4 linked regions of the Homo sapiens genome follow. The protein of the gene in region 1 interacts with the protein of each later gene in a biochemical or structural test. Each region holds a gene or a part of one and is shown on either strand. Other genes may lie near its edges.

Evidence for each region.
Region 2: the proteins of SLC22A9 (region 1) and PATJ interact in a test that uses a peptide from one of them, tested with the Homo sapiens proteins (one large-scale study listed by IntAct).
Region 3: the proteins of SLC22A9 (region 1) and MAGI3 interact in a test that uses a peptide from one of them, tested with the Homo sapiens proteins (one large-scale study listed by IntAct).
Region 4: the proteins of SLC22A9 (region 1) and CARD11 interact in a test that uses a peptide from one of them, tested with the Homo sapiens proteins (one large-scale study listed by IntAct).

The regions. Positions count from the first base shown.
Region 1 is NC_000011.10:63,368,444-63,372,584, forward strand, and holds the start of SLC22A9 (organic anion transporter 7), read left to right. Parts: upstream 1-1,341; 5' UTR 1,342-1,613; coding exon 1,614-2,015; intron 2,016-2,691; coding exon 2,692-2,795; intron 2,796-4,141. UniProt on the Homo sapiens protein: Sodium-independent organic anion transporter, exhibits high specificity for sulfated conjugates of xenobiotics and steroid hormones such as estrone 3-sulfate (E1S) and dehydroepiandrosterone sulfate (DHEAS).
Region 2 is NC_000001.11:61,759,480-61,762,979, forward strand, and holds part of PATJ (inaD-like protein), read left to right. Parts: intron 1-3,378; 5' UTR 3,379-3,413; coding exon 3,414-3,435; intron 3,436-3,500.
Region 3 is NC_000001.11:113,393,515-113,397,014, forward strand, and holds part of MAGI3 (membrane-associated guanylate kinase, WW and PDZ domain-containing protein 3), read left to right. Parts: intron 1-3,500.
Region 4 is NC_000007.14:3,033,868-3,037,367, reverse strand, and holds part of CARD11 (caspase recruitment domain-containing protein 11), read left to right. Parts: intron 1-3,500. UniProt on the Homo sapiens protein: Adapter protein that plays a key role in adaptive immune response by transducing the activation of NF-kappa-B downstream of T-cell receptor (TCR) and B-cell receptor (BCR) engagement.

The DNA of each region.
Region 1 (4,141 bases):
AATGTGGCACATATATACCATGGAATACTATGCAGCCATAAAAAATGATGAGTTCACATCCTTTGTAGGGACATGGATGAAGCTGGAAACCATCATTCTCAGCAACCTATCGCAAGGACAAAAAACCAAACACCACATGTTCTCACTCATAGGTGGGAATTGAACAATGAGAACACATGGACACAGGAAGGGGAACATCACACACCAGGGACTGTTGTTAGGTGGGGGTAGGGGGGAGGGATAGCATTAGGAGATATACCTAATGCTAAATGATGAGTTAATGGGTGCAGCACACCAATATGGCACATGTATACATATGTAACAAACCTGCACGTTGTGTACATGTACCCTAAAACTTGAAGTATAATTTAAAAAAAAGAAAAAGAAACATTATGTTAAATGAATTAAGCCAGATATACAAAGTCAAGTATTTTATGATTCAATGTATAAATCAAATGTCCACAATAGGCAAATCCTTAGAATCAGAAAGTAAATTAGCGGTTGCTAAGTGGGATGTGTGAATAAAAATGGAGAGTTACTGCTAATGGGTATGGTTTCCTATGTGGTGATTAAAATGCTCTGTAACGATATAGTAGTGATGATTGCACAACTCTTTGAATGATCAAAACACATTCAATTGTATACTTTAAAAGGGTAAATTGTATGGTAAATGAATTATACTTCAAGGAGGTTTAAATTTTAATAGAAATTTTAGTCCTAATCAAGGTGACATTTTCTCCCATATTTTGCCTCCAATTCTTCCACAGCACATAGTGCATCTCACATAATATTTATAATGTTGGAGTGCAATTGTTTATGTACTCTCTCTTACTTACTCAACTATAAGATCCTTGAACTTGTCACACACGTTACTTTAGGAACTAGCATGGAAAAGGTCTTCACAAATACTATCTGAAAAATCAATAAGCCAGTAAAAGTAAACCTCCATATGAGCTTACTCCTCTGCTTTTCATCACCATCTATTCTGTCCACATTTCAAGCAATGTATTTCCAGCATGAATTTGTGGTGTGATTTGACATGAAGGAGAACATCAGTCACCAAAATGAAAGGATTGTACCACAGTACCCTTATTTTAGTTTAACTTCGACTTTTTTAGATTAACTCTTAATCAAAAATTGGTACTTAACAAGGAAAAACTTGCCTTCTGTTGTTTTCAGAGAAGTAAAAAAAGCACCTCACCTTTGAGTCGCCAAAATTATGCTTCCTGGAATGACCGCATACCATGTAGCAGGTTTATTTTAGTTTGTTTACAGAAAAGTGTAGACCAAAGTCCAGTGCTGACTTTGGGAGCTACTAAAGACATGAAAAAGTAGAATTTTAAACACATTTCATTGTAAACGACTGGGAGTATCTGAGCAAATTATTTCTTACGTGACTTTAGAGAAAACGGCTACCTATCTGACCCCAAAACGACTTGAGGAAACTGTTTCCACGGTCCTGCTGCAGAGGGGAAGCACAGTCGTCAAGAAGAGAGTGGGGTCAGGATCAAAACACATTTAGTGTGACTTAGGGAAAGAAAACATTTTCCCTCTTTGAACCTCTCTGGATACAGTCATTTTGCCTCTACTTGAGGATCAACTGTTCAACCTCAATGGCCTTTCAGGACCTCCTGGGTCACGCTGGTGACCTGTGGAGATTCCAGATCCTTCAGACTGTTTTTCTCTCAATCTTTGCTGTTGCTACATACCTTCATTTTATGCTGGAGAACTTCACTGCATTCATACCTGGCCATCGCTGCTGGGTCCACATCCTGGACAATGACACTGTCTCTGACAATGACACTGGGGCCCTCAGCCAAGATGCACTCTTGAGAATCTCCATCCCACTGGACTCAAACATGAGGCCAGAGAAGTGTCGTCGCTTTGTTCATCCTCAGTGGCAGCTCCTTCACCTGAATGGGACCTTCCCCAACACAAGTGACGCAGACATGGAGCCCTGTGTGGATGGCTGGGTGTATGACAGAATCTCCTTCTCATCCACCATCGTGACTGAGGTAAGAGGCTCTGTTCTCGTCTCATGAGTATGTGACCTGGGTGTTTAGAATAACACAAGTAATAATCATGCTTCCAGCCTTCAGTCACATGTAGGTCCTTAGTCTTCATTCTTTCAGCAAATACTAATTGCTTCTTTATTAAATGTCTGACACCTACACATTTTGAGTAATGAATTCCAAAGTAGAAGGCATCCTGCTATTATAATGCTTTAAGTCACAGGGAGACCAAAGTTTAAACAAGCATTTATATATAATATGTTAAAATGTTCTGCTAGGTCAGTGATGCTCAGCCTGTCATTGCAAATTAGAAATATCTGGGAAATTGAGAAAAGCCTCCATGCCCAGAGTATACCCTAAAACAATCATATGAGAAGGTCTAAGAGGGAAATTTAGGTTTCTAAAAGTTTTTAAAGGTCTTCAAGTGATTGCACCATGTGGTCATGTTTGAGAACCATTTAGTATGAAATAAAAACCTATAGGTTTAGGAAAGTCTTCCAAGAGAAAGTTATGTTTAAGTTGAGACCTGAATAACAAAGGTCAGGTAATGCTGAGAAAGGAAGCCACAGAGGAAGTTAGAGACTTAATATTAGGAAACTTGCAGATCATGCTAAGAAGTTTTGATCAAGTTACACTGAGGGGTAATAAGCATTGATGTGCTGGCTTCCTTCTCTTCCAGTGGGATCTGGTATGTGACTCTCAATCACTGACTTCAGTGGCTAAATTTGTATTCATGGCTGGAATGATGGTGGGAGGCATCCTAGGCGGTCATTTATCAGACAGGTGAGTGTGTATGGAACACAGCTCTCTTTAAGGGCATTTTTTATCAACTTATGAAACATTATTTCATCTAGAATTACTTACTGCAAATTACATTCTCCTGAGGCTGCCCTGATCCCCAAACAGAAAAGGAAATTTTTAGTCCGTGTTTTGAGTGCTATTTTTAAAATTTGAGCTCTGTATGCAGGACACAGAAATGATATCTCCATGTGAACTGGGGGTGTTTCAAGACAGGTTTTAGAGAGAAGGTACCACAACATGTGGTTTAGAAATATGAGAAAGAGTTAACTAAGGGAATAGAAAGGAAGACGTTTCATCACATAGGATTCAGCCTTGGCCAGGAGTACCAGGTCCAGTCCTACCTGGACACTGTGAGCTGATAGCTTGTGCCCAGAGAATTGTCATTACATCATAGTTCCAAGTGTGATGAACACGCATTCCTCTAAAACCTGTAGGGTATATTTGAAGGTATCATTGGTGGTGTGTTGAAAAATTATGTGTAGAAACTTGATTATTGTCTTTGCAAAAACAGCTTTTTAGAACCATGTGAGGTAAGTAATCCAAGGATAATACTATCTCAGTCTGTGGTGTGAGAAGTTTGGGGTATTCACCTTGCTGTATGTCTCCTGACATGGCAGGGAACAATTACCTTCACCCAACCATGTCTCCCCTGATGGCGATGAGGGACTTGAAGTGCCACTTGCCATCCACCAACATCATGTCTTCTGGTGTCTCACCTGAAAATTTGAACCTTGAATGTACGACAGGAAATGGAATGTAGAATGAGCTAAGAGTCAGAGGGTTAATTTCCAATAGTTAGTCACCCAGTCCTCTGTGATACTGTCCTGGGAAAATGCAGATAGACCAATTTTAATAGATCACAGGGTGGTAAAAGAAGGGGTAGGAGATGCCAGGCAGGAGATGACAGTGGAGAATCAGCTAAAGACGAAGGGACAAGATAACCTAAGGATTTTGGTATTTCTCACAAACCTAAGAGGAAATATTATGTGATTATATGCAGAGTAGGCTATGATCAAACTGATTGTTTTGGAATAACTCACTCAACTGTTTATGATATCTTAAAATCGGAAATAATCTATAATTTCATTAATAATAGGTTAATAAATAAGCAGATATTCACATAATGAATTTTTACAGCAAAGGGAATGAATAAAGTACTGTCTGCAATAAGGTGAATTAACATCAAAACCATTTGGTTAGGTACCACAAGACCAACAAAAAGATTACATACTATAGTGTTCCACCAATGTAAAAGTCAAAAACAAGGAACTACATTATGATGTGAGAAAAGGGAGAAATCTAATTTCCTTTAGATTTCTATTGGAATT
Region 2 (3,500 bases), on another chromosome or scaffold:
GCTCACTGAAACCTCCACCTCCTGCGTTCAAGTGATTCTCTTGCCTCAGCCTCCCAAGTAGCTGGGATTATAGGCGTCTGCCACCACGCCCAGCAAATTTTTGTGTTTTTAGTACACAAGGTTTCACCATGTTGTTCAGGCTGGTCTCGAGCTCCTGACCTCAAGTGATCCGCCTACCTTGGCCTCCCAAAGTGGTGGGATTACTGGCGTGAGCCACAGCGCCCGGGCTGATCGCTTTTGATAATTTACTTTTTCCAGGAGTTTTGCTATTAAAAATGTGGTAAATACCCTTGCACACACATCTTTGTCCCCCTTTGCCAGTTTTTCTTTCAGAGTGACACTCAGAAGTAAAAATTGTACACTCTTAGGACAACTTAGCAGTGTCAGTATACATTGTGTAAATTTTTATTTCCACCTATTTTTTCATGACATTTGGAGTATAAACTATTATTAATCTCTAATAAATCAATAAATGTCAGTTGAGATTTGGCAGTAAAAAAATGTCATCTTATTGTTTTAGTTTGCATTCTTCGATTTAGAGAGGTTGATGTGTTAATGACCAGCAGGCCGCTCTTGTCAATCCTGTTGGGCTGTATGCTGCTATATGAGAGTACAGTGCTGTCATGACTGCCCTTTTGTTATTCACAGTTACCTGTCACTGGGTAGTTGTAAGAGTTGTACAGTTGAGATGCTGAGCACATCAGAAGTGTTTTTTTGATGCTCTATTCAGCACTTCTTTTGGTATTCCCATTGAATCCAGTGAACATTTGGATGGAATACTTAGACCTTTTATCAATGTCAATGGCATCCGTTATTGGTTTTCAATATGTTTTTTTGCTTAATGATCTTGAATTAGAAGATAAAGATGTCATTCAGCCACCATATCCAGGTTGATGTAAGAAAATTTTGATTGTATAATACTTGTATTTCTTTGATGGTTCATTACAAGTGTGTATCACTAGTAAAAATGATCACTGAAAATGTCTCATTTTGGTCATAGCAAAGGGTTTTGCTAGCCTTTTGAGTTTTTAATTACGTTACATTTTAGATTAATTTCATCAAATCACTGGAATTAAGAAAACATTATCCATAGAGAATGCCACTTTGAGTGGTTTCTTTTTTCTTTTCTTTTTCTTTTTCTTTTTTTTTTTTTTTGAGACAGAGTCTGGCTTTATTGCCTAGGCTGGAGTGCAGTGGCATGAGCTCAGCTCACTGCAACCTCCACCTCCCAGGTTCAAGCAATTCTCCTGCCTCAGCCTCCCGAGTAGCTGGAATTATGGGTGAGTGCCACCACGCCTAATTTTTGTATTTTTATTAGAGACGGGGTTTCTCTGTGTTGGCCAGGCTGGTCTCGAATTCCTGACCTCAGGTGATCCACCCACCTCGATCTCTCCAAGTGTGGGATTACAGGTGTGAGCCGTGGCGCCCAGCCTGGGTGGTTTCTTTCAAGCTGTAGATGACTAGTAAGAGTCTGAGATCATTTGTACAGCTTGGGAATTTTTCTTTTATTTTTTGTTGAGATGGGGTCTCCCTTTGTCACCCAGGCTGGAGTGCAGTGGCATGATCATGGCTCACTGTAACCTCAACCTCCTGGGCTCAAGCGATCCTCTCACCTCAGTCTCCAGTGTAGCTGGGATTACAGGTACAAGCCACCACACCAGCTAATTTTTTTGTTTTTGTAGAGATGAGGTTTCACTTTGTTGCACAGGCTGGTCTCAAACTCCTGGATTCAAGTGATCCTTCTGCCTTGGCCTCCTAAAGTACTGGGATCACAGTGAGCCACTGCTCCTGGCCTGGTTCAATAAATTTTGATAAGTATATACATCTGTGTAAACCATACCCCCTTCAAGACACAATGTGTCCATCACTCCAAAAAAGCTTCCTTGAACCCCTTCCCAGTGTAGGGGAGGGAAAATAGCCTCTACCCTTCTAAGTTTTCGGTTGGGGCCCCTGTAATAAAGGGTAGATTAACAAGAGAAAAACATGTAAACTTGTTTAATATAAGTTTTATGTGACATGGGAGCCTTCATAAGGAAAGGAAGACCCGAAGAAACAGTAAAACCTGAGTGTTTTTAAATTAGGTTTGATGAAGAAGGAAGAGTTGTGGAATGTGATAGGACAGAAAGGGATATGAGCCAAGAGTAGTAAACAGGGAAAAACTTAACAAGGCCTGTTTGTTCATATTCCTCTGGGTGTTCCTCTATTTTTTTTTTTTTTAATTTTTGAGACAGGGTCTCACTCTGTTCCCCAGGCTGGAGTGCAGTGGCATGATCATAGCTCACTGCAGCCTCAACCTCTTGGGCTCAAGTGATCCTCCTGCCTCAGCCTCCTGAGCAGCTGGGACTATGGGTATGTGCCACCATGGGTGGCTGATTTTTGAATTTTTTTTGTAGAGATGGAATCTCACTGTGTTGCCCAGGCTGGCCTCAAACTCTGGGGCAGAAGTGATCCTCCTGCCTCGGCCTCCCAAAGTGCTGGGATTATAGGCATGAGTCAATGCGCCCGGCCACTCTGTCTTTTGAGATTAAGATGCTGCTATCTTCTGGGTATAGAGAGGACACCTCTCACATGAGGATCCTATGATCTGCTTCAGGGGAAGTCTTTTTTGCACCTGCTGTTTCTCAGATTCCTTCAACTTAAAATATTCAACAATGCCAAGGTGTCATATTTTGGGAGTAGCATGTTCTGAAGCCTGTCATAGTCAGTTCCCTATGACCCTGCCCCAGGTAAATTAATCTATAATTGTAGATTAGTTTTGTCAGTACTTGAACTTCATATGAATGTAATCATACAGTATGGTTTGTGCCTTTTTTGGGTCAGGTTTCTTTTTTTCCACATATCATTTTTGAGATTTATCCTTGTTGTGTGTATCAGTAATTTTTCCTTTTTATTTCTGAATATTATATACCATTTGTTTATTCATCTGTTACTAGACACTTGGGTTTTTCTAGTTTTGGGGTTTTTGTAAATAAAAATGCTGTAAACTTTCATGTGCAGGCGTTTTTGTGAGCATATATTTTCATGAATACTGAGTAAGTATTTGTGAGTGGAAGTGCTGGGTCATATAGTAAGTGTATTTTTAACTTTATAAGAAACTACCAATTTTCCGAAGTGGTTGTGATATTTTACGTTTCTCTTAGCAATGTACAATAATAGTTCCAGGCACTTCACAGCCTCGTTGAAACTTAGTGTTGTCTGTTTTTAAATTTTAGTTACCTTAGTGGGTGTGTAGTGGCACCTCATTGTGGTTATAATTTTGAATTTCACTGAGTGGAGCCTTGATAAAGAATGTTCTTGAGGTTTTCCTTAATTTTTCTACAGGATTGTAGCCATATACAATTGAAATTCATCTTTTATATTGTTAAATTTTTTCTTTAGGTGTCTTTAAGAGTGATTGAAGAGAATAATTCAAAATGCCTGAAAATCCTGCTACAGGTATACTGGATATATTGTTCTATAATTAAATTAATTATTTAAAAATGGAATCTCAAATGGGACTT
Region 3 (3,500 bases), on another chromosome or scaffold:
TCTTAATAGCCTCATGTTAGGTATTATATTAAATGGCTTTCTTAAATGGCTTTGCTTAAAAGCAACATTTGTTATAAAATAGCAAGATTTTTGCAGGTTAAACAGACTTTAAATACTAGAAATTAAGAATTTGAAGAGGTTATCTGTAGAACTTTTGAGTTTGATTAAAAACAAATATTATTTTCAGAAGAGACAAAGATTCTTTATTGTGATTCATTTTGGAAAGGATGAAAATAGAGTAAGGGAATTTAAAAAGAAACTTGCCATAAACATTGTTTTATTTTTTGCTTTTATCTAAACTTTGTGACAGAAATTGATTTTTCAATTTAATAAGGTATTGTAAAGTGTACTTAGCACTCTCTTGTCTTGACTAGTTGCTTTTTATTAAACCATATTCATAACATGACATTTAGAGACTAGCACAGTGAAAGAGTAAAATTTAACCATTTTTGTAAGATGTAATACTAATCGGAAATGTTCTCATATTGTCTTCTGACAAAGTCCATGGCAGAAGGATGAGCTGGGTTGTAGAACATGGCTTTTGTAGCACTGATTCTTCCTAGCCTTCTTTTCACTTAGGTGCTAAGGGTCGCCCTCCCAAAGCCAGTACTATCAGCCAGGTGACTTAACATCTTTCTGGCAGCTACTGTCTTTAGCTTTGATTTTTTTTCCCTTTTTTTGTTGTTATAATCTTTAATAGAGAATTGAAAGTTACTCTTTAAAATATGGTTTCTAATCTGAAGCTTTTCCTGAATCAATTAGGTAGTTTCTTATTGTTTTAGTGTAGTACTTAGTAGTCAGTACTTTGCCCGCTTATAGAAGAATCTTTGGTTTCACCTATTGCTTGGCTCGATTAGTTACTTGTTTCTTAATTATGACCCTGTTGTTTATTTTTCTGCAAAGAGAAAAGTTGTCATTTGAGTTTGAACTTTGTCTTTTCCCAGTAGTAAAGTTGAACTTTGGACCTCTGGTGAAATTGTTTTGTGATATACTACTATGACTAGGTTTAGTTTCTTTGATTTTACTACAGAGTATATATTCTTAAACCATTTCTATTCTGATTAATATACAAGTAGTGAATTTTGTTCTGAAATTCCCCAGACTCTAATTGTGCAGAGTTTTATGCTTCTTCATACACCTTTAAGCTCATATTTCAGCAGTTTGCTTTCAGTAAGTTTCAGTAAATTATGTGTATTTTATTCCAGAGATTAAGTATCGGTACAATAAATACATGAAATCATTGTCTACTGCCATATGCACACATTACATTCAACTACCCTAAGCAAGTAGTGTATCCAGGGATGGAAATCATAGGAAACAATGTTATAGTTTGTTTAAATAAAAACCAAGTTGAAACAGTTCCTGGGTAATGTTAAAGGTAGGTAAAAGTCTTCACTGCTGACTCTTTGGGACATCCAATTTGTAAGGGAGTTTTGTTAAAATGGGCTAATTCCTAGAAATACACTTCCTGTTGGTGAAGAAACACTACTGGATGCTTTAAAATAGGAAATATTTATGTTATTCAAATAAAAATAATGCTGTGCCTTTCTTATCTCTTGAATCTTTTTGTTAGTTTTTTTTTTTTTTTTTTTTTTTTTTTTTAGTGGGATATTTAGGATTTTTGATGAGTTTTGTTTAGGTGGTTGTATTATATGAGGATGGGAAAGGTAAGAGAATTTAGAGTTAATTGTTAGCCTCCCAGGCTTACAATACATTTCTTCGTACCTTTTTTAAAACAAGAAAATCTAGAGACCTAGAGATTATTTTAGAAACAATAGAAAAAGAAGCAAGCCAAGCCCCTTTGCTAGGGAAAGTAGCATTACATTTTGATAAACCTTGAAGTTGAAAATTTCCTATTTCAAATTTTGGTAGTTTTTTTTTCTTTTTTCCCTAAAGCTCTTAATAACTCAGGGGTTCAGGTTTTGGATTCTGTTCATTGACACCTTCAATTCATATGAGTAATGGGCTTACACCTTAGCAATTGCAAGCTGATTTGCTTGCATGATATTTGATGACTTTTATTATATCATTAACATCTTTGTACTTAAAAAATATTTTCTCTCCATCATTCTCTAAGAGTACTATATCCAAATATCTCAGTATGTATATATGTATATACGTGTGTGTATATATATATTATATGCATATATGTATATGTATATACACACACACATACTTTTGTTAACTTTTCTTGTATATCATTTTCTAGTATATCATTTTGGGTACTTTATTGATCCTGCCCTCACCCCCAGACTTTTATAATTTAGTTTGTAAAACTTTATTTTCCTAGGTTGAGGCATTTTAATAATTCTTTAATTTCTTGCTATCTTACTGGTACAAACAAATACTTAACATTTGGCCATTTGATTTTTAGATGATTTTAAATTTTATTCAGTTTATTGCTAAAACTGATTTTCATGTAACATAACTCTGTGTTCCTGGGACGTATACATTATTTTTCCTCTGAGATCCTGGCACATACTTTATAAAACCTTTTGTTTTGAGAGACAAATTTTTGTGATTTTTTTTCTGCTAATTTATGTAAACTGGCGACAAAACAAATCTTCTAAATTCATTCAAGTGTCTGACTTATGAAGTCAGTGCCTAATCTTCTCAAGTGATAGTTTCATACAGAGTCTTTACTATGTAACCCCTAAGTGCTTTGTAATTTTTGGGGGGACTTAGTGTTTTGGGAGTATGTTGAAAGAGAATCTTGTTTTTATGGATTACTTCAGTATTATTTACCAATTTCAAAATCTGTGAATGTCAGGGTTGTGTGTGTGTGTGTGTGTGTGTGTGTGTGTGATTTGACAAAAGATAAGTGTTTTGGTATTGAAGACTAGAACCGTTTCGCCTTTAATAAATTATTTTTTGTCTTCTGAAATTTTGAGCAATAATTTTCTTGAAATACTACATTTTGGTAGATAGAGTGAATGCCCTGAATTTAAAACTATTGTCTAAAGTAAGAGTTTCAGAAACTTAGAAGCTGGTGTTATGAGACATGTTTGTAGGGAAAGAGGCAAATCCATTCATTGCTCTTCTAGCTAATTTTGCTAACAAAATATCTTGCTAATATTTTGTTTTTGAAGAACAACTATTATTCAGAATGTTTTCCAAGAAAAGATGCATATTTTATTTAATACAGAAAAAATAAGAAGTCCTATTACTGGCACGCATTCATTCCCTCAGCAAATACTTAGTGGTGCACCCACCAAGTGCCAGCATGGAGCTAGCACTGGCGATATAAACATGAGTCAGAAATTGTGTGTCTTCAAGAAGCTGGCAGTTTAGTGGGAGCTTAATGACTCATTGGTAAGGAATACCTGTAGTAAGGGTTTTGCCTTTTTCACTTTTCTGCCAGTGTTTAAAACTCTTTAGGTAGGTCTTAGTATGAATTTTGGTGAAAATGAGACTAACTGGCTGCATAGTGTGCTATTCGAAAAAGTAGTGGAGCTGCATTTTAGAAAGGATTTGGGTTCTCAAGTCATCACAAAAAGAGG
Region 4 (3,500 bases), on another chromosome or scaffold:
TAAACCAATGAGACATGGGAACTGGCACACTTTTTCTCGAAAGCTCCAAATAGTAAATATTTTAGGCCTTGTGAGCCAGAGGGTCTCTGTCGAAGCTAGCAACTCTGTCCTTGCGGGGTGGAGGCGGCTGCAGTTGGGAGTGAGTATGGCCACCTTCGGCACAGTGGATGGCACAGGACTGGACCCTCAGTGGGAGTGTCCAGACCCCAAAATTAGAGAATTCAACCAATGGAAAAAATGGTGAAAGGGTACAAACACACGGAATATGAGCAGGTCAGTCAGCATGCTTCGTTTGTAATTAAATCCATGTGAAGTAATACAACAGGGACATAGCGTTTTCCACCTGTCAGACTGGCAAACATCAAAAAGTTTGATAGGCCAGGCGTGGCACCTCTCACCTGTGATCCCAACACTTTGGGAAGCCCAGGTGGAAGGATCACTTCAGCCTAGGAGTTCGAGACCAGCCTGGGCAACATAGTGAGATCCCACCTCTACAAAAAAACTTTAAAAAATTAGCCAGGCATGGTGACACACACCTGTAGTAGTCCCAGCTCCTCCAGAGGCTGAGATGGGAGGATCACTTGAGCCCAGGAGTTTGAGGCTGCAGTGAGCTAGGATTGCACTACTGTACTCCAGCCTGGGCAGTAGAACAAGACCCCATCTCTAAAAATAAAATAAAAAAGAAAGGTAAAACTGATTGCCCATCAGTAATAATAATAATAATAATTTTTAAAAATTAAGGTATAACACACACACAGTACAGTCTTAAGCGTACAAACAGCTTGACGGGCCTTCACATGCCCTTCTGGAGCCAATCACCCAGATCAAGATTTGGGTCCTTTCTAGGTTCTGGGGAAGTGCCATATCCCCTCCCAGTCGTTACCCCTCCCCTGTCCCCTAAGGGAGGACCCTTCCAACCTCTATCACCATCCCTGTCCTTGAACTTGACGTGGACGGAGTCACATTCAATGTTTCTTTTTCATTGCTACACAGTATTTCATGGCATAAATTTACCGCAATAGGGGCAGGCGCTGTGTCTCATGCCTGTAATCCCAGCACTTTGGGAGGCCAAGGCAGGCAGATTGCTTTGAGCTCAGGAGTTCAAGACCAGCCTGGGCAACAGGATGTAACCGTCTCTACAAAAATTCAAAAATTAGCCAAGCATTGGTGGCTTGCGCCTATAATCCCAGCTACTCGGGAGGCTGAGGCTGGAGAATTGCTTGAGCCCAAGAAAGCAGAGGTTGCAGTGAGCCAAGATCGCACCACTGCACTCCAGCCTGGGTGACAGAGTGAGACCTGTCTCAAAAAAAAAAAAAAAAAAATTACCACAATTTACTTATCCACCTGACCGTTGATAAATGTTTCTGTTGCTTGCAGTTTGGGGCTGTTATGATGAAACCACTGTGAACATTCTTATACGTGTCTTGGTGGTGATGGCCCTTTAAAAAAAAAAATCTGGAAGCAGCCTGGGCACAGTGGCTCATGTCTATCATCCCAGCACTTTGGGAGGCTGAGGCAGGAGGATGGCTTGAGCCTAGTTGTTTGAGACCAGCCTGGGCAACATAGTAAGACCCCATCTCTACAAAAAATGTAAAAGTTAGCTGGTGTAGTGGTCATGCCTGTGGGCCTAGCTCCTCAGGAGGCTGAGGTGGGAGGATCACTTGAGCTCAGGAGGTAGAGGCTGCAGTGAGCTGTGATTGCACCACTGCACTCCAGCCTGGGCGACAGAAGGAGACCTTGTCTCTGAAATTTAAAAAATCCAAGGAGGGCTGGGCGCGGTGGCTCACGCCTGTAATCCCACCACTTTGGGAGGCCGAGGCAGGCGGATCAAGAGGTCAGGAGATCGAGACCATCCTGGCTAACACGGTGAAACCCTCTCTCTACTAAAAATACAAAAAAATTAGCCAGGCGTGGTGGTGGGCACCTGTAGTCCCAGCTACTCGGGAGGCTGAGGCAGGAGAGTGGCGTGAACCCGGGAGGCGGAGGCTGCAGTGAGCCGAGATCGCGCCGCTGCACTCCAGCCTGGGTGACAGAGTGAGACTCCATCTCAAAAAAAAAAAAAAAAAAAAAAAAAAATCCAAGGGCAAGCAGAGGCCCTGTGCCGGCGTTTTCTGCGGTTTAGTAAATTGCTATGTCAGTGGATAAATGCTGCTGTGAAGTAAAACTGTAACGTTATTGACATTAGTGCTTCGTTGCCTGCCTCTGCGTAAGGATTATGTGATTCGTGGAAATCTTCTAAGAAGAAATGGCCTATTTTTAAAGGGATTCAGGTATCGTTGGTTCCGGGGGAAACGTTCAGCAGAATAATAACGATACCTCACACCGCCTTCCAAGACTCCTGACTTCAATTCTCAGACGCGTTTCAAGAAGCAGCTTGATACCCTGCGGAGAGCCTCTGCGAGCTGACATGGGGGTCCCTGTTTGCCAGTGAACAGGCACCGTGATCCCCGTTTGAGTCCCTGAGGCACGCAGAGGCTCTTGGCTCTTCGTAGGAGAGTTCTCGATCTTTGAAAAATGTTTCTCCTCCTTCTTAAAGGACGGCCTTTTACCGGGCCCTGTTCCGAGTGTTCTGAGCCCGGGGAGGTCTTAGACTGGCGAAGAGCATGACCTAGTGGGGAAAGGACCCAGCTCCGGTACAAGCAGAAGGCCGTCTGTGCGCCGGGGACGGGTCACCGTGTCTCCTCACTCATTTTATGTGGAAGTTTGCTGTAATTTTGTCTTGCTCTGTTGCCCAGGCTGGAGTGCAATGGTGCCATCATAGCTCACTGCAGCCTCAGCCTCCTGGGTTCAAGCAATCCTGTCACCTCAGCCTCCCAAGTAGCTGCGACTACAGGCATGTGACACCATGACCGGCTAATTTTTTTATTTTTTGTAGAGATGAGGGTCTTGCTATGTTGCCCAGGCTGGTCTCGAACTCCTAGACTCAAACTATCCTCCAGCCTCAGCCTCCCAAAGTTCTGGGATTACAGATGTGAGCCACCGTGCCCAGCCCTGTATCTTTCTTAAGTAATTTGTACATATATACATATTATTTTTAAAAAATTATATATGTAATTATATGTATAATTATATATTTATATATAATTGTATATAATATGTATAATTATATTTGTATAATATCTATTTATATAATTTATATATATAATTTAGTAATTATATATATACAGTTCTATTTTCTTTGACACAGAGTCTCACTCTTGTTGCCCAGGCTGGAGTGCAGTAGTGTGATCTCAACTCGCTGCAACCTCCACCTCGCGGGTTCAGGCAATTCTCCTGCCTCAGCCTGCTGAGTAGCTGGAATAACAGGTGTGTGCCACCATGCCCAGCTAATTTTGTATTTTTAGTAGAGATAGGGTTTCACCATGTTGGCCAGGCTGGTCTCGAACCCCTGACCTCAGGGGATCCGCCCGCCTCAGCCTCCCAAAGTGCTAGGATGACAGGCATGAGCCACCGTGCCCAGCTGTAATTTTAAAATATATTTTAAAGATCAACCTTATGTC